Linked DNA regions of Homo sapiens. The protein of the gene in region 1 interacts with the protein of each later gene in a biochemical or structural test. Each region holds a gene or a part of one and is shown in the gene's direction. Other genes may lie near its edges. The genes, in order: PRKCG, RANBP10, ARHGEF25 and SCN3A.

Evidence for each region.
Region 2: the proteins of PRKCG (region 1) and RANBP10 form a complex in vitro, tested with the Homo sapiens proteins (one large-scale study listed by BioGRID).
Region 3: the proteins of PRKCG (region 1) and ARHGEF25 form a complex in vitro, tested with the Homo sapiens proteins (one large-scale study listed by BioGRID).
Region 4: the proteins of PRKCG (region 1) and SCN3A form a complex in vitro, tested with the Homo sapiens proteins (one large-scale study listed by BioGRID).

What each region holds. Positions count from the first base shown.
Region 1 is NC_000019.10:53,894,220-53,901,418, forward strand, and holds part of PRKCG (protein kinase C gamma type), read left to right. Parts: intron 1-3,739; coding exon 3,740-3,892; intron 3,893-4,220; coding exon 4,221-4,409; intron 4,410-6,013; coding exon 6,014-6,105; intron 6,106-6,199; coding exon 6,200-6,262; intron 6,263-6,391; coding exon 6,392-6,530; intron 6,531-7,199. UniProt on the Homo sapiens protein: Calcium-activated, phospholipid- and diacylglycerol (DAG)-dependent serine/threonine-protein kinase that plays diverse roles in neuronal cells and eye tissues, such as regulation of the neuronal receptors GRIA4/GLUR4 and GRIN1/NMDAR1, modulation of receptors and neuronal functions related to sensitivity to opiates, pain and alcohol, mediation of synaptic function and cell survival after ischemia, and inhibition of gap junction activity after oxidative stress.
Region 2 is NC_000016.10:67,794,346-67,801,544, reverse strand, and holds part of RANBP10 (ran-binding protein 10), read left to right. Parts: intron 1-7,199. UniProt on the Homo sapiens protein: May act as an adapter protein to couple membrane receptors to intracellular signaling pathways.
Region 3 is NC_000012.12:57,608,507-57,616,459, forward strand, and holds the start of ARHGEF25 (rho guanine nucleotide exchange factor 25), read left to right. Parts: upstream 1-2,928; 5' UTR 2,929-3,388; coding exon 3,389-3,485; intron 3,486-4,249; exon of another isoform or gene 4,250-4,390; intron 4,391-4,423; coding exon 4,424-4,638; intron 4,639-4,757; coding exon 4,758-4,853; intron 4,854-4,933; coding exon 4,934-5,010; intron 5,011-5,187; coding exon 5,188-5,254; intron 5,255-5,509; coding exon 5,510-5,613; intron 5,614-5,824; coding exon 5,825-5,894; intron 5,895-6,009; coding exon 6,010-6,099; intron 6,100-6,182; coding exon 6,183-6,275; intron 6,276-6,460; coding exon 6,461-6,511; intron 6,512-6,730; coding exon 6,731-6,808; intron 6,809-7,005; coding exon 7,006-7,206; intron 7,207-7,330; coding exon 7,331-7,511; intron 7,512-7,777; coding exon 7,778-7,953. Other genes in the region: probable E3 ubiquitin-protein ligase DTX3, read left to right, coding at 14-231, 571-646. UniProt on the Homo sapiens protein: May play a role in actin cytoskeleton reorganization in different tissues since its activation induces formation of actin stress fibers. It works as a guanine nucleotide exchange factor for Rho family of small GTPases.
Region 4 is NC_000002.12:165,126,133-165,133,331, reverse strand, and holds part of SCN3A (sodium channel protein type 3 subunit alpha), read left to right. Parts: intron 1-1,914; coding exon 1,915-2,088; intron 2,089-3,035; coding exon 3,036-3,392; intron 3,393-5,230; coding exon 5,231-5,701; intron 5,702-7,199. UniProt on the Homo sapiens protein: Pore-forming subunit of Nav1.3, a voltage-gated sodium (Nav) channel that directly mediates the depolarizing phase of action potentials in excitable membranes.

The sequences.
Region 1 (7,199 bases):
CATGCCCGGCTAATTTTTTGTATTTTTAGTAGAGATGGGGTTTCACCGTGTTAGCCAGGATGGTCTCGATCTCCTGACCTGGTGATCCACCCGCCTCAGCCTCCCAAAGTGCTGGGATTACAGGCGTGAGCCACCACACCCAGCCGATTCTTGAGTTTTAAAAAATCTATCAAGCATGATCATCTTAATCTCTCCATTCATTCATTCACTCACTGAATATCCTTCTTTTTCTTTCTTTCTTTCTTTCTTTTTTTTTTTGAGACAGAATCTCCTTTTGTCACCCAGGTTGGAGTGCAGTGATGCAGTCTCAGCTCACTGCAACCTCTGCCTCCCAGATTCAAGTGATTCTCCTGCCTCAGCCTCCTGAGTAGTTGGGATTACAGGAGCGCACCACCACACCTGGCTAATTTTTGTATTTTTAGTAGAGATGGGGTTTCGACATGTTGGCCAGGCTGGTCTCGAACTCCTGACCTCAAGTGATCCACCCGCCTTGGCCTCCCAAAGCGCTGAGATTAGAGGCGTGAGCGACCACGCCCAGACGAATACCCATTTTCTAGGGTGTCATAAGCCAGGCCCTGTTCTGGGAATAGAATCAGGCCATTCCCTGGTGGAGCTCTTCTTCTAGTGGAGGACAAAGTTACAAACCCAGACATTCACAACGAGGAGCAATGCTGCTGTAATGGAGACAGCCTCAGGCACTGGGGCGTCCCTGGCACAGCCTGAGTCAGAGAAAGCTTCCTAGAGAGGTGAGACCTGGTAGAAGGGCGGGATTTCCCAAAGGAGAGACCAGATTTTCAGGCAGGAGGAAGTAATGCTCTCTCCCTCATTTACCCTTTCAAAAAATACTTTACAGAGCATCTTTGTGTGCCAGGCGTGGCTCTACTCACTGGGGATATAGAGAAAGCAGGGAAAGAACAAACAAACAAACAAAAAAGTTCCTTTCCTTATGGGATTTACACCGGGAGGAAGACATTAAACAAAATATATAAGCATATGATAGACTGGGCACGATGCCTCATGTCTGTGATCCTAGTAAGGCGGGCGGATCACCTGAGGTCAGGAGTTTGAGACCAGCCTGGCCAGCGTGGCAAAACCCCATCTCTACTAAAAAATACAAAAATCAGCTGGGCATGGTGGAGGCGCCTGTAATCCCAGCTACTCGGAAGGCTGAGGCAGGAGAATTGCTGGATTCCGGGAAGTAGAGGCTGCAGTGAGCCCAGATCGCTCCACTGCACTCCAGCCTGGATGACAGAGGGAGACTCTGTCTCAAAAAAAAAAAAAAAAAAAAAGAAGACAAGAATCTTCAAGATTCAACAACAGCAACAACATGTTATAGTCTTTACTGGACTCTTACAGAAACTTTCACCAGAGTTTTTAATGTTGTGTGTGGGGGTTCACCTGCATCAGAATTCCTAGAGTGCTTGCTTTTAAAAGCACATTCCCCAGCCTTTCTGCAGACCTACTCAGTGACGATCTCTCTGATGCCTCAAATGTCTGCCTACTAAATTAATTCCTCAGGTGATCCTTTTGCAAAGTTAAGTTTGAGAATGGGCTCTGCGGCCGGGCGCAGTGGCTCACGCCTGTCATCCCAGCACTTTGGGAGGCCAAGGCGGGTGGATCACGAGGTCAGGAGATCGAGACCATCCTGGCTAACACGGTGAATCCCCGTCTCTACTAAAAATACAAAAAAATTAGCTGGGCGTGGTGGTGGGTGCCTGTAGTCCCAGGTACTCAGGAGGCTGAGGCAGGAGAATGGCATGAACCTGGGAGGTGGAGCTTGCAATGAGCCGAGATCGTGCCACTGCACTACAGCCTGGGTGACAGAGCGAGACTCTATCTCAGAAAAAAAAAAAAAAGAGAGAATGGGCTCTGCAGGAGACAAGGGTACCAGCGGGAGGACATTCTGAGCCAAAGAGGTAGAGTCTTTTGAGATCAGCAGGGATGATCCTCCCGTACAAACCCAAGAAACCCAGCAGGGCAGATGGTGGGCAAAGGCCTAGAGGCAGGGAGTGTAGGGTGGTGTGTGTGCCTGTTGTGGCTCACAGCACTCTCCCACAGTTCAGCAGGCACCACTTAATATTACCAATGAACACCAACTCTGTGCCAAGCCTTGAGCTAGGTACGGGGCTAACAACACAGCAAACAGAAACAGCCCTGATTATTATTATTATTATTATTATTATTATTATTATTATTATTATTATGTATTTATCTATTTGAGACACAGTCTCGCTCTGTCGCCCAGGCTGGAATGCAGTGGAGCGATCTCAGCTCACTGCAACCTCTGCCTCCCGGGTTCAAGCGATTCTCCTGCCTTGGCCTCCCAAGTAGCTGGGACTACAGGCATGTGCCACCATGTCCTACTAATTTTTATATTGCTAGTAGAGATGGGGCTTCGCCATGTTGGCCAGGCTGGTCTTGAACTCCTGACCTCAGGTGATCTGCCCACCTCGGCCTCCCAAAGTGCTGGGATTACAGGCATGAGCCACCGCACCCAGCCCTCAACAAATATTTATGTAGCCTCAATGAGGTAGGCAGTGTTACTGTGTCTTAGCGAACAAAGCAGACCCCTGCCTTAGGGAGCTCACAGGCAGAAAGCAGATAGTCACACAGATAGATGTAAATTACTAAGAATAAAAGTGCCAGGAAGGTGCTGTCCATGGTGACCAAGGGGTGGTAAGAGAGGCATCTGACCCAGTTTAAAAAGTCAGGCGAGGCCTCTATGAAGTGATGCTTGAGTCAAGGTCTAAAGGGTGTTTGGGAGACAACTAGGAGGGAAGGGGAGGGGAGAGCTTTACAGGAAGACCTAACGGCACATCCAGAGGCCCTGAGGTGGGAGGGAGGACAATGAGTGTCAGGCCAGGGTGGCTGGACCATGGAGCCTGGGAGAGAGAAGAACAACCTGCAGTGTCAGTCTCAGCCTGGCTCTGCAAGTCATGTGGAATAAAATCTTAACACAGAGGGAGCAGTTAAAGGGTTTACAAGCATAGGGGAGACATGACCTGGTTTATTTATTTTTAAATTGGCTCCTGTGCCTGCTGAGTAGAGAATGCATTAGAAAGGGCAGCCGTCCATGTAGAGGGACAAGTGTGGAAGCTGTGACAGCAGCTTAGTCTTGGGCCCCCTCCCTGGGGGGCCGAGGCAGGAAAAGGTAGAGAAGGGACCCTAGCTGAAAGCCAGGTGTGCTCCCTGGACTGGCAGCACCCATGTCACCCAGAAGCTTTTTACACATAACGATTCTCAGGTCCCACCCCAGATTTATAGAGTTAGAAAATCTGGCAGTGGGACCCAGCAATCTGTTTTACCAAACCCTCTAGGGAATTCCGGCTTAGAGGCTAAGAGCAACCAGATTCTAGAGCTGGACTGCTTGGGTTTCATTTCTGGCTCTGTCCTTTACCTGCTGTGTGACTTGGGGCAAGTTACTTAACGTCTCTGTGCTAGTCTCCTCTTCTGTAAAATGGAAACGATAGCAGGGTTTTCTGGAAACAGCATATGATAAGCTATCTAAAAAAAAAAAAGAAGAAAAAAAGAGCTAAGTGTTTGTTGAATAATAAATAAACCCTCCAGGCTATGGGGAGTCAGAGAAAATTAAGCCAAGGACAGGGTAGGAGGGTGGCCATTTTCCTCTGTCTAGCGATTCTCATCCTTTCCTTTCTTGGGTGCTGTGTCTCTTGGGAGCATTTCCTTATCGCTGTGTAAGGTCTAACTGCCTCTGGCTCTTTCTTTCTCCTTTCCACAGCGGGTGCGGATGGGCCCCTCTTCCTCTCCCATCCCCTCCCCTTCCCCTAGTCCCACCGACCCCAAGCGCTGCTTCTTCGGGGCGAGTCCAGGACGCCTGCACATCTCCGACTTCAGCTTCCTCATGGTTCTAGGAAAAGGCAGTTTTGGGAAGGTTGGATTCCTGGGGTTCTGGGGGAAAGGGAGGATGTCTGTGGGAAGGTCAGATTTCTGGTTCTTAGGGAGGAAGTGGGGGTGGGAAGAGACTGGGCTCCTGCATCTTCAAATATGGTTAGGTTGGGCCGTTCAGGTTCCTGGAGAGGAGAGGTTTACAGATGTGGACACTCTCCTTGAGGGGACGGGCGGCAAGTCAGGGCTGTCAGTCCCTTAAGAGATGGAGGAAGGGCCTGGGATCCCGTTTCCCTGCGTCCCTTAGGGAGGGGGCAGGTCCTGTACCACTGGGTTCCCAACATGGACTGGCCCTTTTGGAACTGTGCGCATAGGTGATGCTGGCCGAGCGCAGGGGCTCTGATGAGCTCTACGCCATCAAGATCTTGAAAAAGGACGTGATCGTCCAGGACGACGATGTGGACTGCACGCTGGTGGAGAAACGTGTGCTGGCGCTGGGGGGCCGGGGTCCTGGCGGCCGGCCCCACTTCCTCACCCAGCTCCACTCCACCTTCCAGACCCCGGTAAGGATGGAGGGGGCGGAGGCTGTCCTCCGGGCCCTGCCTTATCCAGTTCTGGACATCTGCGTTGGGATTCTGAGTTTAGGGCGAGGCAAGAGAACTTTGTGCTCTCTGAGTGGGCGAGGCCAGGCGGATTGTCTCCTCAGGGGGCGTGGCCGGGGGGGGGTCCTTGGGGGGCGTGGCCAGGCGAAGGGACTCATCGGGGGGCGTGGCCAGGCGGAGGGGCTCAACGGAGGCGAGGCCGGGTGGAGGGGCTCCTCGGGGGCGTGGCCAGGTGGAGGGACTCATCGGGGGCGTGGCCAGGCAGAGGGGCTCTTCGCGGGGCGTGGTCAGGCGGATGAAATCTTTGGGGGGGTGGTTTAGAGGGGCGGGCTTTGTCAGGCGATGGGATCATTAATAGGCGTGGCCAGGCAGATTGGCTCCTTGGGGGCGAGGCCAGGCAGACGAGATTATGAATGAGCGTATCCAGGCAGGTAGATTCTTCGGAGGGCGTGGTCGGGCGGATGAGCTCCTCGGGGGCGTGGCCAGGCGGTGAGTTCCTCGGTGGCATGGCCTGGCCAGGTGAATGGGTCCTGCGGAGGTGTCGTGAAGCGGTTGAGTTCCTTGGGGGCGTGGCCAGGTGGATGGGCTCTTGGGGGGAGTGGCCAGATGCCTGTTTCCCTGGGGAGCTTGGTCTTGAGTGGCTGTAGCCAGTGCTCTGGAATTTTCAGCAAAGGGGCACAGTGGAGGAGGGTGCCTTCCTAGTGGGCCTGCCCAGAATTGGGCTCCGAGTGACGGGGTCATCACTTTTGGATTCTGACTGAAGGACACATCAGAAACAGGACATTATTTCCTTAGGATTGCGACTTAGGGGCAGAGAGTCAGAACCTGCAAGATTTTAAGAGGGCGTGACTTTACTTCCAGGGGCTCCGAATGAGAGTGGCCAGCCACCTGGATTAAAATATATGTATGAGCAACTTTGATTCCTTTTTTTTTTTTTGAGAAGGAGTTAGCTCTTGTCCCCCAGGCTGGAGTGCAATGGCGCGATCTCGGCTCACTGCAACCTCCGCCTCCCGGGTTTAAGCAATTCTCCCGTCTCAGCCTCCTGAGTAGCTGGGATTACAGGCTCCCGCCACCACACTCAGCTGATTTTTGTATTTTTAGTAGAGACCGGGTTTCGCCACGTTGGCCAGGCTGGTCTGGAACTCCTGACCTCAGGTGATCCACCCGCTTCGGCCTCCCAAAGTGCTGGGATTACAGGCGTGAGCCACCACGCCCAGCTGCAACTTTGATTCTTAGTAGGAAGCCAGAATTGCATCTGTGTGTGAGTGGCTGTGGAAAGAGATTTTGGTGTTCCCGGATTTCGAGCGAATGGTGGGCTTCAGTCTTCAATTCTGAGAAGGCGGGGCCAGAACACGTGGTCTGATAGTTGGCGGTGGTCTGGCGGGTGGAGATTCTGAGGTAGCAGGATTAGCACCTTAGGGCCCTCCCAGGGATGTGGCTAGGTGCTCTGAATTTCTGGTTGGGTGCATCTGGAACCTTCCACGTCTGTCCTGAGTGATCAGGAAAGAAATTCTCCTACTCTGGGTAGATGGATCCCGCCTCTAAGCCCATGCACTTCTCCGCAGGACCGCCTGTATTTCGTGATGGAGTACGTCACCGGGGGAGACTTGATGTACCACATTCAACAGCTGGGCAAGTTTAAGGAGCCCCATGCAGCGTGAGTCTCGGCCAACAGAGAATGGTCGGGGTGGTGGAAGGGGGCAGGATCCAGCCACTGACCTTCTGACGTCCCCACCCACCCCGTCCTCCAGGTTCTACGCGGCAGAAATCGCTATCGGCCTCTTCTTCCTTCACAATCAGGGCATCATCTACAGGTGAGCAGCCCCAGGAATTTCCGTGGAGGAAATCACGCCCCTGGAAGGGAAGGGATTTGAATATGTGGCTCTAGACTGCTGAACTCAACACTTCTTGCAATTCCTGCCCCACACCCCTGCATCGTCCAGGGACCTGAAGCTGGACAATGTGATGCTGGATGCTGAGGGACACATCAAGATCACTGACTTTGGCATGTGTAAGGAGAACGTCTTCCCCGGGACGACAACCCGCACCTTCTGCGGGACCCCGGACTACATAGCCCCGGAGGTAACCCCAACCCTGCTGCTCTGGTCACGCTTTGAGATCCCTTAGAGGGTGTAGCTGATGGTCCAGTATTCACCACGGGTGAGGCCTGACCCTCAGACCTTGTCATGAGTTGTGGCCTTCTTACACAGCCAGTCGTTCCTCCAGCCTCCAGCACAGGTGAGCTTGGCACTGAGCCTGCCAGGTGGGCCCAGCTGGGTCTCTAAATAGGTAAGGTGGGCAGCACCTGTGGGTGAATGTTCCAGGAGAGTGGGACCAGCTCGTAGGAATTCCAAGTAGGACCTGACCCTGGATCCTTCTGAGAAGGGGCAGACGATTTCTAGTGTACTCTGAGTGGGTGTGGCCTGTCCCCTGCCAACACTGAACATGTCCGGACTATCTTCTGAATACTTTAAACTGGGCAGGGCTCTCCCTGGAGTATTCAGTTGGATGGAAGCTTATTTCCTGTGTTGTACGTGTTTCTCTGATGTAAGTGTACTGGACTTCTGTGCTGCATTTTTCAAGAGGGCAGGATCAGCTGGGCGCGGTGGCTCACACCTGTAATCCCAGCACTTTGGGAGGCTGAGGCAGGTGGATCACTTGAGGTCAGGAGTTTGAGACCAGCCTGGCCAACATGGTGAAACCTCATCTCTAACAAAATTACACAAATTAGCCGGGCGTGGTGGCATGCGC
Region 2 (7,199 bases), on another chromosome or scaffold:
AGGTGATCATCTACCTTCCCATTTTGTGAGTGAGCCCTGAGTCCCTGGGATGTTTGGTGGCCTACCCTGGCTGCAGGGCTTAGGGTGTGCAGTGGAGTAGCCTGACTTATCAGATGTCCTCGCCTGATCCTAGACACACATGTCCATGCTGCTGCTGCCTTTCCCCATTGTAGCTGTTGCATTTCTTCCCTGGGTAGAGTGAAGGAATGTTCTGTTGGATTCCTACCAGATTGCAATGTTAGGGGACAGAGCTGAAAGGTGCATGGTGCTGTGTAGGGCCAGAGAATTGTGGCATGCTCTGGGCCGGGCTTGATCAACTTACTGTTCCATTTAATCTGTAAACTTGCTTTTCTGTAGATTTGAGTACACCTCCTTTGTAAAAGGTATTTATAAACCCAGTTGTTAGTGTCATTGTTCTCCAGAACGTCCTTTGTTTTGACAATATCTTTTGGAGAAGAACACACTAAGCTAGTCTAATAAGGAAAGTTTCATGTCAAGATTTCACAGAATATTTATATATACCTACTATGTTCCAGGCCCTATACTAGGTATAGGGAGAACAGATGTAAAGCCAGCACAGATCAGCTTTGTCCTCAGGAAGCCTGTGGCCCATTCAGTAGAGAGTGGACTGAAAGTCTTTCTGCAAGAGGAGGCAGAGCCTGGGAACAGTTGGGAGGAATGAGTAGGAGTTCCCCAGTAGGCGAGACCTGTTAGACCTATGAGTCTGATGGGTAACTAGCTTGACTTCTGGGTGCTAGGCTTTCTGGGCACTCCTCAAGTATAAGAGAGCTCTGTGGAGTAGGAGGGGCTGTGTTTGAGCTAAGAGCTTGGCACAGACTGATGGGCTTCAACTGCATTTTGCCGAGTCACCAGAGCTGTGAACTCGGGGAGCGGGTCTGGTGGGGTGAGGAGACATCAGAGCACTGCCAGTGGTGCCAGGAGATAAGGGGCATCCAGGTCTGTCTTTCTAGGAAGCGAAGGAGGGCCTGAAGCTGAGGGTCCCTGGGGAGGAGCAATGTCTGCAGGCAGAGTTCATGGACCTGTGGGTGTCCCTGGCTCTTAGTGATGACACATGGAGGGTGTGGCTGGCTAGGCTGACAGATGCTCCAGTGTGACCCTCAAAATAGACTGTAACATCATCCCAGCGGCGGAGGCCTCCTGACATGTGATGGTTGCTTTACCCAAGAGTAGTAGGCCTGGGCTAGAGCACTGGAAGGCATGGAGAGGGGTGGGGGCATTTTCCTCTGTAGCCAGTGTCTGGGCCCAGGCCCAGAGCAGGGGTCTCTGACCACAGCCAGCCTTCCCTTGCTCCTGCAGCTGACTTCCTTTGGCCAGGCAGCAGTGCACTCATTCATTCATTCCAGACACCAGGGCGCAGTACCCATTGTTTTTTTTTTTTGGTTGTTGTTGTTGTTGTTGTTTTTGAAACAGAGTCTCGCTCTGTTGCCAGGCTGGAGTGCAGTGGCACAATCTTGGCTCACTGCAAACCTCCGCCTCCTGGGTTCAAGTGATTCCCCTGCCTCACCCTCCCGAGTAGCTGGGACTACAGGCGTGCACCACCATGCCCAGCTAGTTTTTGTATTTTTAGTAGAGACGGTGTTTCACCATGTTGGCCAGGATGTTCTAGATCTCTTGACCTCATGATCTGCCCTCCTCAGCCTCCCAAAGTGCTAGGATTACAGGTGTGAGCCATCACATCCATTGTTTTGTCCCAGCCTGGGCCCCAGGAGCACAGGCATGAGGCCCCACCGGTGGTGTCGAAGGGTCAGGCCACCGTATGTGTCATATCCAGGGGTGGCCTGGAGGATGGACTGTACCTCAGAGTTTGAGGAAAACATCATAGAATCATATAAGAGGTGATGTGGGCTCTGGAAAGAGGAGTTAGAGTGTTCTAGGTGAACAAAGTGAGAAGCAGATGCTTCAGGCAGAAGAAACAGTGCATAAAAAGACATGGAGCTGGCCGGGCGCAGTGGCTCACACCTGTATTCCCGGCACTTTGGGAGGCCAAGGCGGGCGGATCACGAGGTAAGGAGATCGAGACCATCGTGGCTAACATGGTGAAACCCCGTCTCTACTAAAAATACAAAAAATTAGCCAGGCATGGTGGCGGGCGCCTGTAGTCCCAGCTACTCGGGAGGCTGAGGCAGGAGAATGGCGTGAACCCGGGAGGCCGAGCTTGCAGTGAGCCGAGATCGCGCCACTGCACTCCAGCCTGGGCAACAGAGCGAGACTCTGTCTCAAAAAAAAAAAAAAAAAAAAGAGATGTGGAGCGCAGAACATGAGGTCGGTAGGGCCAGACTGAAAATACCTTGTGTGTGGCCTGGCTCATGCCTGTAATCCCAGTACTTTAGGAGACTGAGGCGGGCAGGTCACTTGAGTTCAGGAGTTCGAGAACAGCCTGGCCAACATGGCGAAACCCCATCTCTCCTAAAAATACAAAAATTAGCCAGGCGCTAATAATAGTGGTGGTGCATGCCTGTAATCCCAGCTACTTGGGAGGCTGAGGCAGGAGAATCACTCGAACCTGGGAGGTGAAGGTTGCAGTGAGCCGAGATCACGCCACTGCTCTCCAGCCTGGGTGACAGAGTGAGACTCTGTCTTAAAAAAATAAAAAAGAAAATACCTTGTATGCTGTGGCCAGGGAGCGTGGGCTGTATCTTGAGGGCAGTAGCAGTGTGGGGGGCTGTGGATCTACCCATGCTTTTGAGAGTGAAGAAAAGAAGAGACTCTGCCAGTCTGGTTCAGCCAGGCTTCTCTGGCCAAGAGCCCTTGTCCAGGGTGGGCCAGTGACTTTAGGTCTTTGGCTCTAGCATGGTTTTCTCATAGCGGTTGTCTTTTTTTCTCTTGGCTGTTCCTTTGGTATGAAGAGATGAAGGGATGGGGTGTGAAAGACTGGTAGCCAGGAGGCTTCTCAGAGGTGAGAGGACTCTGCTTGTGCTGGAGTTCTGGTATTTTGGTTTTGCCAGCTCCCATCTGAAAGACAGTAATGCCCCATGTTTTATACCCAAGCATCTCCTCTGGTGAGCCAGAATCAGCCAAAGTGATTTTCCATGGAGACCTAGAGAGCCACTGTTAATTAAGATATCTTGATTAAGATCTCACCTGCCACATTCCTGGTGTGGAGGACCATCTAAGCTTAGGCCCTTCCAGCTGAGAGACAGCTGTGGCTGGCTTCTCACCCTGGATCCCCTCACCAAGTTCCAGTCTACATGCATTGTACAGTGCTGTTGAGAACTTTGGTGCTCATATGTCATCTGGGGAAGGCGTTGTCCTGCCCGCCCTGATAAGAAGGTGCTGTCCTTGCCCAAGGTAGGTACAGGCCGTGGTTGTGCCCCATTTTCCCTTACTGCCCCCCGGAGTTGATGGTCTTACAGGCAGATGCTGAGCTTTGGGCTGCACTTCTACTCAGGTAACACATTGTGCTATTTGTGGAGACATGGAATGTTTGGGTTCTGGAACACAGGGTAGGATGTTTGGGTTCTGGAACACGGGGTAAGAGAACTGGAGTCTAGATGGTGGCCACTGTTCTTTGCTTTTTTTTTTTTTTTTTTTTTTGAGAGAGGGTCTCTCTCTGTCACTCAGGCTGGAGTGCAGTGGCACAATCATGGCTCACTGCAGCCTCGACCTCCTGAGTTCAAGCAATCTTCCTACCTGAGACTCTTGAGTAGCTGGGACTACAGGTGCATGCCATCATGCCTGGCTAATTTTTATTTTATTTATTTAATTTATTTTTTGAGACAGAGTGTTGCTCTGTCACCCAGGTTGGAGTCCAGTGGAGTGATCTCGGCTCACTGCAACCTCCGCCTCCCAGGGTTCAAGTGATTCTCATGCCTCAGCCTCCTGAGTAGCTGGGATTACAGGCGTGTGCCATGACACCTGGCTAATTTTGGTATTTTTAGTAGAGACGAGGTTTTGCCATGTTGGCCAGGCTGGTTTTGAACTCCTGACCTCAAATGATCTGCCCACCTCAGCCTCCCAAAGTGCTGGGACTACGGGTGTGAGCCACCATCCCCAGCCCTGGCTAATTTTTAAATTTTTTGTAGAGACAGGGTCTTGCTATATTTCCTAGGCTGGTCTGGAACTCCTACGCTCAATCAATCCTCCTGCCTCAGCCTCCCAAAGTGCTGGGATTACAGGCATGAGCCACCACACCTGGCCTGTGGCCACTTTTCTGGTAGGGCCTCCCTCCTCACTGTATGTTGCTACCCAGGCTCCAACTGTGAGCTGAGAGTGGGGAGCGTCGTTGCCTTCTTTATAGCTGGGGCCTTCTTGGTCAAGGATTAGCTTTTAGAGAAATTCCTAGAATTCACTTCACCTCCTGCCTTTCTGCCTTGATGGTGTTTTTGTTCTCTGGAACTTTTGGTCTTTTCCCTGTATGGGTCATGGTGTAAGGGAGATTCCTTGTTAGAAGAGAAGCAGAAGCTCATCAGGCCAGAGCACAGGAGGATGAACCTAGCAGCCCCATGTGGCAGGCACTGTGTGCCATTCCTATTATGGGACCATTGGGAAGGAATAAAGGGCTCCAGAGTGGGTCTTGTGTGGTCGGGTCAAGTTGGAAAGAAGGGACTCATCAGTGGAAGAGGGATGGATAATTATGTCTAAATGCAAAGATGTTCCTCTGCCTCTCCATTCTGTTCAAAATCCATATAAAATGTCTTTGTAATTCTAGGATCGTTGGTGTTGTGACTTGGTGGTGGAACAGAGCCTAGCCCTTCTGTCATGAAGGGGCCAGAACAAGATGCTCTGTACTATATAGGGAAGTTGGGAGGGGACTGGGGAAGCCCTTGGCACCCCTCTTATGCCATTTCTTGTTACTTAACTCTTGGAATTAGAGATGCTTGGGGTTTCAGGGGAGTTTAGTTTAGGTCAGGGGTGGCAAGTGTGAAGGCCCCAATACCCCACAATACCCTCAGCTTCTATGACCAACATTACTGATTGACAGTAGCACTTGTTCTTGTCCAGACAGAGCCCAGAATTTTTCTCAATGCACAGCACATCAGGCAGCTATAATTTACTGGTCAGAGTTTCATCATGAGATGAAATCTACTAGCCCTCAGGGTGGAGGTGGTTGGAAGATAAGTGGATAGAGGCCCAGATGGTTGAGGGCTCAGCTTATTTCTTCTAAAGGAGAGTCCCAAGGCAGAGCTGAACCAAGAGGAAAGAAACAGAGGGGTTGGATTGCTGAGTAGAACTGATTCTAACCCAGTTTATAAAGCCATGTATCTGAAATTGGCATGGACTTTTTAAAAAAATGGAATGCCCTGTTTTTATAACAACTTGCACCAGTAGTTTGTCAGTAGTTATATTTACTTTTATAAAAATCAAAATAGGCTGTGTGCTGTGGCTCACACCTGTAATCCCAGCGCTTTGGGAGGCCGAGGCAGGCGGATCACAAGGTCAGGAGTTTGAAACCAGCCTGGCCGACATGGCGAAACCCTGTCTCTACTAAAAGTAAAAAATATTAGCTGGGCATGGTGGCAGGCGCCTGTAATCCCAGCTACTCAGGAGGCTGAGTCAGGAGAATCACTTGAACGCGGGAGGTGGAGGTTGCAGTGAGCTGAGACTGTGCCACTGCACTCCAGCCTGGGCAACAGAGTAAGGCTCTGTCTCCAAAAAAAAAAAAAAAAAATCAAAATATTTTTATTTTACGTATAGAAAACATTTGTTTGTTTGTTTGTTTGTTTATTTTTGAGACGGAGTCTCACTCTGTCGCCCAGGCTGGAGTGCAGTGGTGCGATCTCAGCTCACTGCAAGCTCCACTTTCCGGGTTCACGCCACTCTCCTGCCTCAGCCTCCTGAGTAGCTGGGACTACAGGTGCCCGCCACCGCACCTGGCTAATTTTTTGTATTTTTAGTAGAGATGGGGTTTCACCGTGGTCTCGATCTCCTGACCTCGTGATCCACCCGCCTCGGCCTCCCAAAGTGCTGGGATTACAGGTGTGAGCCACCGCGCCCGGCCGAAAACCTTTATTTTTAAAAAATTATTTTATTTGTTTGTTTATTTTGAGACGGAGTTTCACTCTTGTTGCCCAGGCTGGAGTACAATGGCACGATCTTGGCTCACCATAACTTCCGCCTCCCGGGTTCAAGCGATTCTCCTGCCTCAGCCTCCTGAGTAGCTGGGATTACAGGCGTGCACCACCATGCCTGGCTAATTTTGTATTTTTAGTAAAGACAGGGTTTCTCCATGTTGGTCAGGCTGGTCTTGAACTCCCGACCTTAGGTCATCCTCCTACCTCAGCCTCCCAAAGTGCTGGGATTATAGGTGTGGACCACCGCACCCAGCCTATTTATTTTTTTGAGGCGGGGTCTCACTCTGTTGCCCAGGCTGGAGTGCAGTATTGCAATCATGGCTCTGCAACCTCCCCTCCTGCTCAAGAGATTCTCCCACCTCAGCCTCCTGAGTAGCTGGGACTACAGGCACATGCCATCATGCTCAGCTAATTTTTTTTTTTTTAAGTAGAAATGGAATTTCACCACTTGCCCAGGGTGATCTTCCTGGGCTTAAGTGATCTGCCTGTCTTGGCCTCCCGGAGTACTGGGATTACAGGTGTGAGCCACTGTACTTGGCCTTTTTTTGTTGCTGTTTTTTTTTTTTGTTTTTTTTTTTTTTTAATTTGAGGCAGGGTCTCACTCTTGTCACCTAGGCTGGAGTGCAGTGGCAAGATAGTGGCCTGAAATTTTTTTTTTTAACTGTTAAAGAATATGTAGGATTTTTTTTAGGCTGGGCCCAGTGGCTCAAGCCTGTAATCCCAGCACTTTGGGAGGCTGAGGCAGGTGGATCATGAGGTCAGGAGATCAAGACCATCCTGGCTAACACGGTGAAACCCTGTCTCTACTAAAAATACAAAAAAATTAGCTGGCCATGGTGGCACACACCTGTAGTCTCAGCTCTTCGGGAGGCTGAGGCAGGAGAATTGGTTGAACCTGGGAGGCGGAGGTTATAGTGAGCCGAGATCGTGCCACTGCACTCCAGCCTGGGAGACAGAGTGAGACTCCATCTCAAAAAAAAAAAAAAAAAGAATATGTTGGATTTTTTTAATACCTGATAAAGTCTACGTTTAAAAAATACACAGCAGGCCGGGTGTGGTGGCTCGTTTTTTATTTTGAGACGGAGTCTCGCTGTGTCACCCAGGCTGGAGTGCAGCAGCATGACCTCGGCTCACTCCAACCTCCGCCCCCTGAGTTCAAGCAATTCT
Region 3 (7,953 bases), on another chromosome or scaffold:
ACCTTCCTCCCAGGCTGAACACCCAAACCCAGGAGTTCGGTATCCTGGCACCACACGGGTGGCCTACCTCCCGGACTGCCCTGAGGGCAACAAGGTGCTGACCCTGTTCCGCAAGGCGTTTGACCAGCGTCTCACCTTCACTATCGGCACGTCCATGACCACAGGGAGACCGAATGTCATCACCTGGAACGACATCCACCACAAGACCAGCTGCACAGGGGGACCCCAGCTGTGCGACCCCTCTTCATTTCCTTTCCCTTGGCTCCTCCCCTTTGTTCCATTTCCACTGAGGGACCCACCAACCCCTCGCTCACGGAGCCTCCTAACTGGAGAGAACCACTTCCAAACTGTTCAGCCATCTCAGTTTCTCCTACATTCAACCTGGTCCTGGTGTGCCCAGCTTAGCCTACAAAAATAAGCAGAACTGGGCTAAATTATCTTGGATTTGGAGGTGTCCTCCCTTAGGGGAGGTGGGGAGGTGTCTGAGCCACCTAGAATGAGGGTGAGCATGGGGATAATAGCAAGTTCAAACAGCTAACAACCCTCACCCTCATTTCTCTTTGCTCCCAGGTTTGGGTACCCAGACCCCACCTACCTGACCCGGGTGCAAGAGGAGCTGAGAGCGAAGGGTATCACAGATGACTGAAGGACATCGCCTTTGCCAAGGCCCCTGCTGTCTGCCTCTACTAGGACCCAGCAGAAGCCTCTTTCTCCTCTCTGCCCCCTGCCCCCCACACCACACCTGTAGGGGACCTGTCTGACTGGGAAGGGAGTTCCGAGAGGGAGGGGGCAATCCCTTCCCCCATCCCCCACTGGCCAAGTGTTTCAATGCAGTGTGAGCCACTCCCTTCTGGCAGAGGCCGACCTCCAAGGCTCTGTTCTCCCCTCCCCGTGTACATATACTCCCGGTTTCCCTGCCCCTCCATTGCCCTTGGCTTTTTCTGGTATGTGCTGTGCTCCACGACCAAGCCGAGAAAGGACCTAGGGTGGGGAAGGGAGGGTCTCTTGATTCCTAACCGCCCCCACATACTGCTCCACCGCTGAACTTCGGGTGCCGGGGAGGAGAAATTGGGCTGATGTGAGCTCCCCGTCACCCGCCATGGAGCCGGCTGTGTGTGTTCATCAGATACAGTTCTCCCTTAACCTTGTCCTTTCTCTCCTGTGTCTCAGTCTCCGTCAGTCTGTCTTTCTCCGCTCTTCTCTGACCCCTGTGAGGAACCTCCTTACCCTGTTCTGGAATCGCTGCCAGACTGTAGCTTTTAATTTAATAAAAATAAAGTAAAATATGCAACTCTTTATGCCACACCCGTTCTTTTCCAGGGACTGGGTGGGGGTGGGGTGGGGAGAGGGACCTGCTGGAAAGGGGAGAGGGGATGATGGGGTGATCCCTGCGTGCACTCCCAGTCCCTCTGCCTCCTGAGGACCTGGGGAAACGGGATGCACCAGCGGGCTCTGTAGTAACACTGAGAAACCCTGGGTCACTTCGATGTTGGAATTAGTATTAAGAGGGTGTTTTTTTGTTGTTCAACTATGGTTGTAGAGAAAACAACCCTAGCCACTCTGCGAAGTTTGGCTGGGGTGGGAGTGGGGGCGGAGCCGGGCAGGGGGCGGATTCCGCAGCAGCAACTCCCCGGACGCGCGCAGGCCTCAAAGCCCCCCAGCTTCAGTGCCCCCTCGACCCTGAAACTTGGAGCAGGGTGGGGGTTCAGTATGAAGCCCCCGGACCGCCCCGCCCCTGGCCGCACTGACCGGATACTGGGGGTCATGGGGGGCATGCTGCGCGCATGCGCCCTCCCTGGGCAGGAGGGGGTAAGAATGGGGGCTCGCGGTGGGGTCGGGGGTCTTTCGGGGCCTTCAGGAGGGCTGCACCCACAACTCAACTTATCCGAAAACGAGTTCTGCGGGGCAGTCGCAGGAATACATGAATTCTATTACGAGGGCCATAGCCCCGTTCTGGGCGAGCCTTTTATAACAATGTGGGTTTTGACAGGTAGGAGAAGGGGAAGGGGGAGGTCAGGGCTGCCTAGGAGGGCAGGTTCCTTACAGTGGTTCTGTCCCCGCAGCCCCCAAGGAGAAGCCCTCTAGGGTTGGTGGGTACCGAGCCAGAGTCTGAACGTACGGAGGGAGATCACAGAAGGGATCGCGAACATGAGGTCCTCGCCGGGGCTCTGCAGCCCGGTAAGAAGCTGGGGGTGGGGTGGGGCACAGTTTGCTATCCTGCGCCAAGTGGCGAATTCAAAAATATTCTATTCTTATTAGCATAAAGTTCGCATCTAATTTGCATGAGACCCATTTAATCGCAGAGACCTCCACTCTTCTTGCCTTCGAGTCCAATGTGTGTCCCCCATCCCAGTCGATCCCGAGCCCTCGCAGGCAGAGTGTCCCCGCGCCCCACCCCTGGCCCCTCGCCAGCCCGGGCTCCAGGACTTCGCCTTAATTGGCGATTAGTCTTAGCTGGAGTCCCGGGGCCTGGAGGAAAGAAGGGTCCTGAGAGAGGGCGGCATCTGGGTTGTGTTCACCCACAAAAGACTCCCCATACACGCACCCCGTACCAGGGGGCCTCTGTCCACTCGGCCGGGGACAGCCCCAAACCCAGAACATCTTCGCACAGGCCAAGGCCCCATCCACTGAGTCCTCCTTCATCGCAGAGGCCAAGGGGAGACCTGGGCAGACCCTGCAGACAGGCTGAACCCCGACCCCAGCGCTCCGCAGAGCCCGGGATGCGAGAGGGAGGGGGACCCCGGGGCAGGGGAGCACGGGCTGGGGAGGGGAAAAAGCGCTGGGGACGTGGAGTGGGAACGTGGTGGTGTCTGGGGGAGGGGCGATCGGGGCGGGAACCCGGCGCAGGCAGGAGGGGGAACGCGATGGAGAGGGCGGAGCTGGGCCGCAGAGGCCCCGCCTCGTGGCGGCCCCGCGGCCAGGCCTGTTATTCAGCTCTCCGCTCCGCTGGGACCCGCACAGCGCCAGTGGCTCGGGGGTCGGCCCTCGCCTCCTCCCCGGCCCGGGCCTAGAGCCACCCCTAACCAGAGGCCGGAGACAGCTGGAGCGGCTGCCGCATCCCGGCCCAGCCTCCCCTACCATCCCTCCCCCTTCCACTGGACATCTGGACCCTAGGCCCCCGCACCGACAGGGTTCCGGAAACCCTCCCCGCCCAGCCCGGCGGCCGGGCCCCGCGCCTCTCTCTCTCTAGAGCCCCCAGCCCTCCTCAAGACTAGACTTCCGCCTACCCCTGGACACCTCCTCCCGGTCCCCTCCCTCCCCCCCTCCCACAGCCTGGACCGGGGTAGGAGGGAGGGGGGGTGTGCGCCCGGCGCCGTCCCCGCCCCGCCCCCCGTGATTCCCCCTGCATGGCCGGCCCGGGTGGGGGGCGCGGGGGGGCCCGGGCGCCATGCGGGGGGGGCACAAAGGGGGTCGCTGTGCCTGTCCCCGTGTGATCCGAAAAGTGCTGGCAAAATGCGGCTGCTGCTTCGCCCGGGGGGGACGTGGTGAGTGCCAGGTCGAGAGGGTCCAGTGTTGAGTGGGGGGCGGGCTGGGGGTTCAGGGCATCTGTTTGCCCTGGCCCTTGGGATTTAGGGTTGGAGACTGTATGTGTTTTCCAGGAAAGTGGTTTCTTAAGTGATCCCTAAGGTCCCTTCTGCCTCCAAATTTCTGTTAGTTCAAGTTAAGGAAATAGGGGAAGGGGCAGGGAACTCATCTCTTTCCCTTTGTCAAATGGGTTTGAGAAAAACCCACCCACAATCCCCTTAGGCCTAGAACCGATTATTTTCCTCAAACCTTTTGCTAAGAATCTACTTCTGAAGAGGGACAGGAGAATGGAGGAATGAGAATGAGGTGGTTCTACAAGGGGCTTTATAAGGAATCACAGCTCTCTGTCGCTGAGCACAGGCCAACGATAACCCTGATGGACCCTCCTCACTGGCCTCCTCTATTGGGTCTACGCATGTGTTGGGGAGGTGGGCTGCAGAAGTCTTTTCTTTTTATAGTGATTACTGCAATTGGTGGAGGAGGGGACTGGGAGTGGCAGATGGACCCAGCTCATCCTCCCCTCTTCCCAGAGAATGGTCTGTACCCATTGAAAGAGGGAGGGTTGTAGGAGAGCAGATGGCCACCCCCAGCTTCCAATGTCTGCCCAGATGGCTGCCCCCACCCCCATATCTATGCTATGCTCAGGATATGGGGAACCTCCACATGTAACTGGGGGTTCCAGGCCTGGAGAGCCAGGCGTTTACCTTACTGTGCTTTCTCCCAGGGGTGCCCTGGTGAAATTTTCTATCCTGGCCAACTCAAATGAGGATGGCAAGAGAGTGAGCCCTTGGAGAGAGAGGCTGAGCATCATGAAGAGAAGACCCTGGGAGTTCCCTGGGGACCCTGAGTCTGGAGCTGGGGCAAGGTCTATCACCTCCTCTCTTTTTCCTCCCATTAGAATCCTATTCCATTGCGGGCAGTGAGGGGAGTATATCGGCTTCTGCTGCCTCCGGTCTGGCTGCCCCCTCTGGCCCCAGCTCTGGCCTCAGCTCTGGCCCCTGTTCCCCAGGCCCCCCAGGGCCCGTCAGTGGCCTGAGGAGATGGTTGGATCATTCCAAACATTGTCTCAGTGTGGAAACTGAGGCAGACAGTGGTCAGGCAGGACCATATGAGGTGAGCAGGGAACGGCACCAAAGCATGTGGGACATCTATGAAGGACACTGGCAGAGAGGGCAAGTTGGGGCCACCCAGCTACTGTCCCCGACCTCTGACACTTGATTTCTGGCCCCCAGAACTGGATGTTGGAGCCAGCTCTAGCCACAGGAGAGGAGCTGCCGGAACTGACCTTGCTGACCACACTGTTGGAGGGCCCTGGAGATAAGACGCAGGTGTGAGGACAGGCTCTGGGGAGGCTCCTTTCACTCAAGGGGCATTCGTTTGCTCACCCTAGGATGTTCTTTCCTTCCAGCCACCTGAAGAGGAGACTTTGTCCCAAGCCCCTGAGAGTGAGGAGGAACAGAAGAAGAAGGCTCTGGAAAGGAGTATGTAAGTGTCCACAGCCCTTCCCTGCAGTTGCACAACTTCCAGAAGACTGTCCCTCACATTTTAGATGGAATTTCCTCCAAGGTTGGCTATGATGATAAAGGGGAGGAGGGAGGAACGGGCTGAACCAAGGATGAGCTCCGACGCTGAAGTGGGGGCCTCCTCCTGCTTTCATCCTAGGTATGTCCTGAGTGAACTGGTAGAAACAGAGAAAATGTACGTGGACGACTTGGGGCAGATTGTGGAGGTAGCTCCCTTTACCCCTTCCCAGCCCCTCCTGCCTGCTTTTCCATCTGCCCAGGGCTATTTTCAGGAGGTGCCTGGGCGCTCCTCTGTCCCACCTCTCAAGCCTCCCCACTCCTGGACCTTCCTACTCTGGGGGCAGGGCGGCTCCCACCAGGGAGGGGGAGGTGGAACACACCCTGGATTTGTGTACAGGAGCACCATTAAGGTGGGGAGAGGGCCACCACATGCTCATGACCCAACCTCAACTTTCCCACAGGGTTATATGGCCACCATGGCTGCTCAGGGGGTCCCCGAGAGTCTTCGAGGCCGTGACAGGATTGTGTTTGGGAATATCCAGCAAATCTATGAGTGGCACCGAGAGTGAGTGGTGGAACTCTGACAGCTAGGTGCTGGAGAGGGGCCCTCATCTGGTTGTCCTGTATCCTAACATCAGCCCATTGCGACTTAAGGAATGTTTGGAGAAGTTTTGTAGGGCACACTACCAGGGCAGACAGCTCGAAACTGCTGGGAGTGGGCGAGGTGGGGGTTGTGAAATGTATTTGACCTGCTGCTTCTCTACCAACCCCTCCAGCTATTTCTTGCAAGAGCTACAACGGTGTCTGAAAGATCCTGATTGGCTGGCTCAGCTATTCATCAAACACGTGAGGCTTGAGGGGGCAGGGCCTGGGGCGGGGCTTAGGAATGGGCTGGGATTCTCTGGAGATGCGTCCTCCCTCCTTGCCCACCCTGCTCTCTCTTAAACATTACCCCTGTTAGGAGCGCCGGCTGCATATGTATGTGGTGTACTGTCAGAATAAGCCCAAGTCAGAGCATGTGGTGTCAGAGTTTGGGGACAGCTACTTTGAGGTCAGTAGCTGAGATGTCTTGGTGGGAAGGAGGACAGAACTGGGGCTTTCCAGGCTGCATAACCACCCTGTCCCTGTCCCCAGGAGCTCCGGCAGCAGCTGGGGCACCGCCTGCAGCTGAACGACCTCCTCATCAAACCTGTGCAGCGGATCATGAAATACCAGCTGCTGCTCAAGGTCAGGACCCCCTTTTTCCTGGGGGCACAGCTGGCTGGCACAGCTGTTTCCTCATTCATCTCCCCAGGGTTCTTAGGGCTCCCCCAGACTTCCTGAGGGCCCTCACTGGTGTCCTCAGGGGAGGATGTGAGAGCTTCTAAGGGTGTCCTCGTGACCTCCCTGAGCATTTCTTCTCTCTGTCTTAGGATTTTCTCAAGTATTACAATAGAGCTGGGATGGATACTGCAGACCTAGAGGTGAGGACCCCAGATCTTCCAGGACACACCATGTGCTCCTTATCCTCCTAGTATCTCATGGGTTCCCCCAGCCCCTTGGGTGGTTTACAGCTGTCTGGTTTTTAGGGGGAGGCTGGTTGGGGTTGAGATACCGTCTGAAGAGGCAACTGGCCGAGGAGGCCTCTTTCCCAATAATGACTCTCTTCGCCCAACAATGCGCCTCCCTCACCTGTGTCCCAGCAAGCTGTGGAGGTCATGTGCTTTGTGCCCAAGCGCTGCAACGATATGATGACGCTGGGGAGATTGCGGGGATTTGAGGTACGGAGATAGGGCAAGAAACTGGAGGCCCGATGCTCTTCTGCCCCAGCCCTAGCATTCAGGAGGTCCTTATGGGGAGTTGTCTTCTCCTGGGGCTGACCCCATGGTTGGTTGGGCATGTCAGGCGAGGAAGGGAGGAGCAGAGAATTGTCCTTTTTCTTGTTCTTTTTCCAAGGCCACTATCCTTTTGGTTTCAGGGCAAACTGACTGCTCAGGGGAAGCTCTTGGGCCAGGACACTTTCTGGGTCACCGAGCCTGAGGCTGGAGGGCTGCTGTCTTCCCGAGGTCGAGAGAGGCGCGTCTTCCTCTTTGAGCAAATCATCATCTTCAGTGAAGCCCTGGGAGGAGGAGTGAGAGGTGGAACACAGCCTGGATATGTATACAAGAACAGCATTAAGGTGGGGAGAAGGCCACGAGGGAGGGCTTGGAGAGAGAGAGGGCATGAGGCCTCTGAGAGGATGTCTCAGAGGAGCCAGGGAGGGCCTGAGGAATCTGGGGGCTGTCTCCTATCTGCCAATTCAGGTGAGCTGCCTGGGACTGGAGGGGAACCTCCAAGGTGACCCTTGCCGCTTTGCACTGACCTCCAGAGGGCCAGAGGGTGGGATCCAGCGCTATGTCCTGCAGGCTGCAGACCCTGCTATCAGTCAGGCCTGGATCAAGCATGTGGCTCAGATCTTGGAGAGCCAACGGGACTTCCTCAACGGTGAAGCTCTCATCCTTTCTTCCCGATGTGCTCTCTCAGCCCCTTAACCTCCTGAATCCCTCACTGCCCAGTCTCCAGTACCTACCCTCTGACCATGGCCCATCCCCTTTTCCACTGCTAGCTCAAAATTTGATAGAATCCCCTAAAGCCCTAAGCAATTGACATTGGCTGACAGGGAGGGAGGGCAAAGTGGGAGAATGATACAGGCCCTAGGGAGCAGACCTGTCTCTGCGGTAACCCTCCTTCTGTTCCTCTCTTTGCTCCAGCATTGCAGTCACCCATTGAGTACCAGAGACGGGAGAGCCAGACCAACAGCCTGGGGCGGCCAAGAGGGCCTGGAGTGGGGAGCCCTGGAAGAATTCAGCTTGGAGATCAGGCCCAGGGCAGCACACACACACCCATCAATGGCTCTCTCCCCTCTCTGCTGCTGTCACCCAAAGGG
Region 4 (7,199 bases), on another chromosome or scaffold:
TGTGCATGTGTCTTTATAGCAGCATGATTTATAGTCCTTTGGGTATATACCCAGTAATGGGATGGCTGGGTCAAATGGTATTTCTAGTTCTAGATCCCTGAGGAATCGCCACACTGACTTCCACATTGGTTGAACTAGTTTACAGTCCCACAAACAGTGTAAAAGTGTTCCTATTTCTCCACATCCTCTCCAGCACCTGTTGTTTCCTAACTTTTTAATGATTGCCATTCTAACTGGTGTGAGATGGTATCTCATTGTGGTTTTGATTTGCATTTCTCTGATGGCCAGTGATGGTGAGCATTTTTTCATGTGTTTTTTGGCTGCATAAATGTCTTCTTTTGAGAAGTGTCTGTTCATGTCTTTCACCCACTTGTTGATGGGGTTGTTTGTTTTTTTCTTGTAAATTTGTTTGAGTTCATTGTAGATTCTGGATATTAGCCCTTTGTCAGATGAGTAGGTTGCGAAAATTTCCTCCCATTTTGTAGGTTGCCTGTTCACTCTGACGGTAGTATCTTTTGCTGTGCAGAAGCTCTTTAGTTTAATTAGATCCCATTTGTCAATTTTGGCTTTTGTCGCCATTGCTTTTGGTGTTTTAGACGTGAAGTCCTTGCCCATGCCTATGTCCTGAATGGTAATGCCTAGGTTTTCTTCTAGGGTTTTTATGGCTTTAGGTCTAACTTTTAAGTCTTTAATCCATCTTGAATTAATTTTTGTATAAGGTGTAAGGAAGGGATCCAGTTTCAGCTTTCTACATATGGCTAGCCAGTTTTCCCAGCACCATTTATTAAATAGGGAATCCTTTTCCCATTGCTTGTTTTTCTCAGATTTGTCAAAGATTAGACAGTTGTAGATACGTGGCATTATTTCTGAGGGCTCTGTTCTGTTCCATTGATCTATATCTCTGTTTTGGTACAAGTACCATGCTGTTTTGGTTACTGTAGCCTTGTAGTATAGTTTGAAGTCAGGTAGTGTGATGCCTCCAGCTTTGTTCTTTTGGCTTAGGATTGACTGGGCGATGCAGGCTCTTTTTTGGTTCCATATGAACTTTAAAGTAGTTTTTTCCAATTCTGTGAAGAAAGTCATTGGTAGCTTGATGGGGATGCCATTGAATCTATAAATTACCTTGGGCAGTATGGCCATTTTCACGATATTGATTCTTCCTACCCATGAACATCGAATGTTCTTCCATTTGTTTGTATCCTCTTTTATTTCATTGAGCAGTGGTTTGTAGTTCTCCTTGAAGAGGTCCTTCACGTCCCTTGTAAGTTGGACTCCTAGGTATTTTATTCTCTTTGAAGCAATTACTTGGAACCAACCCAAATGTCCAACAATGATAGACTGGATTAAGAAAATGTGGCACATATACACCATGGAATACTATGCAGCCATAAAAAATGATGAGTTCATGTCCTTTGGAGGAACATGGATGAAATTGGAAATCATCATTCTCAGTAAACTATCACAAAGACAAAAAACCAAACACCACATGTTCTCACTCATAAGTGGGAATTGAATAATGAGAACACATGGACACAGGAAGGGGAACATCACACTCTGGGGACTGTTGTGGGGTCGGGGGAGGGGGGAGGGATAGCATTAGGAGATATACCTAATGCTAAATGACGAGTTAATGGGTGCAGCACACCAGCATGGCACAGGTATACATATGTAACTAACCTGCACATTGTACACATGTACCCTCAAACTTAAAGTATAATAATAATAAAATAAAATAAATAAAAATAAATAAAAATAAAAAATGAAAATAAAAAAACTAAGACTTGAATTGATTTGTCACATTCTCTCACTTTAAATTTTAGATATTTTTATTCCTGTTAATGTTCTTCTTTATAAATTCGTGTAGCATCAGTGTTTTTCAGTGCTCTTGAAGTAGTGCTGATCTCTATTTTTTAGGTCTTTACTGGGATTTTCACAGCAGAAATGGTTCTCAAGATCATTGCCATGGATCCTTATTACTATTTCCAAGAAGGCTGGAATATCTTTGATGGAATTATTGTCAGCCTCAGTTTAATGGAGCTTGGTCTGTCAAATGTGGAGGGATTGTCTGTACTGCGATCATTCAGACTGGTATCTATTTATATATATCCCTGTCGCTCATTGGCACAACATTTATTTTGAAATTGAATCAATGTATATTTATATAATTATTAATTTTAATTTTAAATTTACATCAATATGTGACATTCTAAGAAAACATGTAAACATCCTCTTTAAAGCTAAACCATTTTCTAAGAATGATGAAAGCATTCAAAATACTCTATAATGATTAGGTATGTAGGGCACATTAGAAAACCTACAAGTACTTTCTAAAACTGTGTTTTAAGTTTATGAAGCTTTTTTGGCCTTACAGTCTGTAAAGATACGCAAATAAAAATTTAGACCCCAGTTAATTTTAGCTTTTTATTAACCCTACTTCTAGGAATGGGGACTGTTTTAAAGCAACATGTGGGAAAATATTTGATGTTATTAGTATCTTAAATAATTGTATAAAAAACTTTTTGAATTATCACAAAATTTTATTGAGAAATATGTAAAATTTATTGAAAATTAAGCAAAATGTGTATTTTTTCAATTTTTTTCCTGTACATTTTTATCACATTATTTAGGTTATTTTACTTTTATATTGGCCTATAAAAATCTATGATTTATACTTTTAATATTTCTTTTTACTGTCTAAAATAGAATCTGAAGATAACATTTATTTGCTAATTTAAAAAGTCTCTAATCAAAATACCATTTGTTTACATGGGCATATCTTTGGATGAATCAGAAATGTTTTATTTATTATTTCTGAAATGTTTTATTTTTATTTTTGCACTTAAATGATATTATGACCAGATTTACAATTCTAATATTGTTAACACTATTTTTTCTGGATTTGAAATTGAATCAGTTCAGTATATTTTGAGTTTTTACATCTACCACGTGTGGTTCTATGATACCACATACTAATAAAATAATGTCTAAAATTATATTATGATTACTACTAACAGCATCTTTTCACTTGATTACAGCTTAGAGTTTTCAAGTTGGCAAAATCCTGGCCCACACTAAATATGCTAATTAAGATCATTGGCAATTCTGTGGGGGCTCTAGGAAACCTCACCTTGGTGTTGGCCATCATCGTCTTCATTTTTGCTGTGGTCGGCATGCAGCTCTTTGGTAAGAGCTACAAAGAATGTGTCTGCAAGATCAATGATGACTGTACGCTCCCACGGTGGCACATGAACGACTTCTTCCACTCCTTCCTGATTGTGTTCCGCGTGCTGTGTGGAGAGTGGATAGAGACCATGTGGGACTGTATGGAGGTCGCTGGCCAAACCATGTGCCTTATTGTTTTCATGTTGGTCATGGTCATTGGAAACCTTGTGGTATGTATGTAGTACAAATGCTCATAAATTAGAACAAGAGCAGACAGTAGCTAGGAACGTGGCCAGATGTAGTAAACATATCTCTGGTTTATAGTAAGTGGCCTAGACTGAAATCCCCCTATTAGCACTCAGAGAATAAGCAAGTTATTTAACTTCTCCTGGGCTCTGGTTTCCCATTTTTTATGACATTGGAATAATAAAACTGAAATCATATCTTTAATGCAAAGATTAAATCAGATGTATTTATGAATGCCTGGGGGCATAAATATTAGATTTTCCTTTCTTCTTCAAAGAAAGTAAATTTTTATCACTAAGAAGAATTGTATCCTAATATTGTTTTGATAAGAAAATGACCTCTACTAAATCTAAAAAGACAACTATCTATTCTATAATCAAATTGCTCTTTGCATGTTCATAGTTCATGTAGTTTGCTTACTTAGAGACATAGGTTGCATAGTACCAAATTTTGAAGACACATTTCAATGAAGTAGACCATTATATTTTAGCTATGCATTGTAATTATCCAAGTAACTTGGAAGAGGACAAAATGTTTTCTTCCCTGAATTTGCATTACTATAGGAAAACCAATTATTACAGTTTAAATTATTCATATGTATGGACATTGTCCAGACTCAAAGGAGTTACTTTTAACTGTGACTTAAAATCACTAATGCAAAAGCATAGTTTATATATTTATATGTTTAATGCTTAAATTTCTCAGTCATGCGTGGGCAAAGCATTTCTTTATGCCATCATATTGGGCCTTTCCTTTGAGGGATACATTTCAGATAAACTTGTTCAAAAGAATGCTACTGGGATACCTACGAACATGTAATTTTTTTCTCCAGAATAGTAAATTAGGGAGCTCTAGATTCTGAAAAAATCTGATACAGAAGTAAGGAAGCAAACTGGGGCTTTTGCCTTGCATGTCTTCCTATAGTGTAACATATTCTGAAACTCAATAACTAACTACATTTCAGGCTAAAAATATTATTATAAATTTTCTTTTACATCAGAAATAATGAATTATTCCTGCATTAACCATAACTTATCAGTTGGCTGAGTAACTTTTTCACATATCCCATGATATTCTGAAAGTTAAAATCGCCTCATACTTTCTACACACACACACACACATACACACAAAGAAAGAAAGAAAAAGAAAAGTAACTTATGTGGGTCTAGCCTAAACCCTGGTATACTTTTAGATTTCTCTCCATCTGTTGAGCTATTTGAACATATAAATTTCAAAGTGTATTTGATGGGAAACGTGTTAAATCGTATATAATTTGCACTTAGAAATTTCTGCTGTTATAAAAGTTTGTGGCCATTGGGCCAAAGGAATTTGTATTTCAAGTATATCATTTGGAACATATCATCAGGCTATTAAATAAATAAGTTCATTCTTTATATACACGAAGCTAGAAATTCCCTAGGAAAAAAAATGGTAAGATGAAGTAAGATAAAATGATTAAGAAGAAAGTATCTTTCTCTCTCTCTCTCTCTCTCTCTCGTTGGCAGAATCCTTGAGGGTAGGATTTTGTCTTTGCACTGGCAAACCTGAGTAGACACCATTTAAATCTTAGAAGCTCTGCTTTCCTATTGTCCCTCCCAATAGGAAAAAAAGAAGAGGTGCTTGTTTTATCATTTTGCCCTTAGAGCAGGATATTAGGTCCTTTAAAGAGTGTGTGACTTAGACATGGCATCTGAAATATAGTAAGCATTCAATAAACATTTGTTGAAATAATTTTAGCAAAGATCTATGAGTTCCCTTTTTAGGCTGTTATTTAAATGCATATTTCAATATTAAAATAGACATTTTTCTTTTTTTCTTTTAGGTTCTGAACCTCTTTCTGGCCTTATTGTTGAGTTCATTTAGCTCAGACAACCTTGCTGCTACTGATGATGACAATGAAATGAATAATCTGCAGATTGCAGTAGGAAGAATGCAAAAGGGAATTGATTATGTGAAAAATAAGATGCGGGAGTGTTTCCAAAAAGCCTTTTTTAGAAAGCCAAAAGTTATAGAAATCCATGAAGGCAATAAGATAGACAGCTGCATGTCCAATAATACTGGAATTGAAATAAGCAAAGAGCTTAATTATCTTAGAGATGGGAATGGAACCACCAGTGGTGTAGGTACTGGAAGCAGTGTTGAAAAATACGTAATCGATGAAAATGATTATATGTCATTCATAAACAACCCCAGCCTCACCGTCACAGTGCCAATTGCTGTTGGAGAGTCTGACTTTGAAAACTTAAATACTGAAGAGTTCAGCAGTGAGTCAGAACTAGAAGAAAGCAAAGAGGTAAGAATGCTTTTAAATTTTTTGTTCCATTTCCTATGATAACCATGTACTACAGTTATTTACTATTTTCATTGTGCTTATATGCATTATCAAAAAGCAATATTGAAAGTCATATGTCTATAGTGATGTTGGAAAATCACAAGATACTCTTTATTGGGAAATGGATTTCTAAAAATTCCAATTTTTCACAGGAAATTAAACCATTCTGAGTCTTTAGTATATTCATTTTCTTGATCATTTGAAAATGTGGTTAAAAAATGTGGCCTTTTAGGCTGGGCATGGTGGCTCATGCCTGTAATCCCAGCACTTTGGGAGGCCAAGGAGGCAGATCACTTGAGCCCAGGAGTTCGAGGCCAGCCTGGGCAAGATGGCAAAATCTCCTCTCTACAAAAAAAAATACGAAAATTCACTGGGCATGGTGGCACATGCCTGTAGTCCCAGCTACAAAGGAGGCTGAGGTGGGAGGATTGCTTAAGCCCAGTAGGTAGAGGCTGCAGTGAGCCACGATCACATCATTCTACTCAACCCTGAGTGACAAAGCAAGACCCTATCTCAAAAAAAAGTAGCCTTCCAAAAAAGAGATGTTATTTAGTACATTACACTCTCAACTACATTATGTTCTTTAAAAAATAACTTATTTTCGTCATCTCCTTACTCTCTATATTAGGTTTTGCTATGATTTTTATGTGAAAACTTTATGTACTTTTGTTAACCTCTGAAAGTCTTATTCACTATGATAGTGTTTCATTTATGAAAGTGTTATACACATTAGGAAAGTACAAGTAGTACTTATTATATTTTGCCCAGTCAAGGATGAGCAGATCTATAGTCTTCCAGAGTAACTTGAAAATACTAAGAACTACTTTTAAAAGCTTCACTTGAGGGCTATAGTTATTTTGTAGGTTAATAAACCTACTCTTACTGTTGTGTTACTAGGAAAGAGAAAAAAGAAGGAAGGAAGGGAGGGAGGGAGGAAGGGAGGGAAAGGAGAAGAGGGAGGAAGGACGGAAGGAATGAAGGAAGGAAGGAACGAAGGGAGGGAGGGAGGGAGGGAGGAAGGAAGGGGAAAGAAAGGGAAAGAGAAAGAAAGAAGGAAATAAAGAAAAAAGGGAAAGAGAAAAAAAGAAGGAAAGAAAGAAAGAAAAGAAGGAAGAAATAAAGAAAGAGAAAGAAAAGAAAAAGAGAAAGAAAGGAAGGAAGGGAAGAAAGAAAGAAGAAAGGGAAGGAGGGAAGGAAAGAAGGAAGGAAGCAAGGAAGGAAGGAAATTGTTCCTACTGCATGATTAGTATTCTTAAGTTTCTATCATAGTAGTAATGTTATTAATTCTTCAATCCTGTGTTGTGGAAAAGAGGATTAAAATTCTTTACTATTATTTATTTATAGACGTTTAATACATATGAGTACAAAGTAAGTCTAGCACAGATGGAGTTATCAAAGACAGGTTTTGGCTTGAGGGTATAATGTTGACACAGTGGGAACCAAACCAACAATGTCTGAT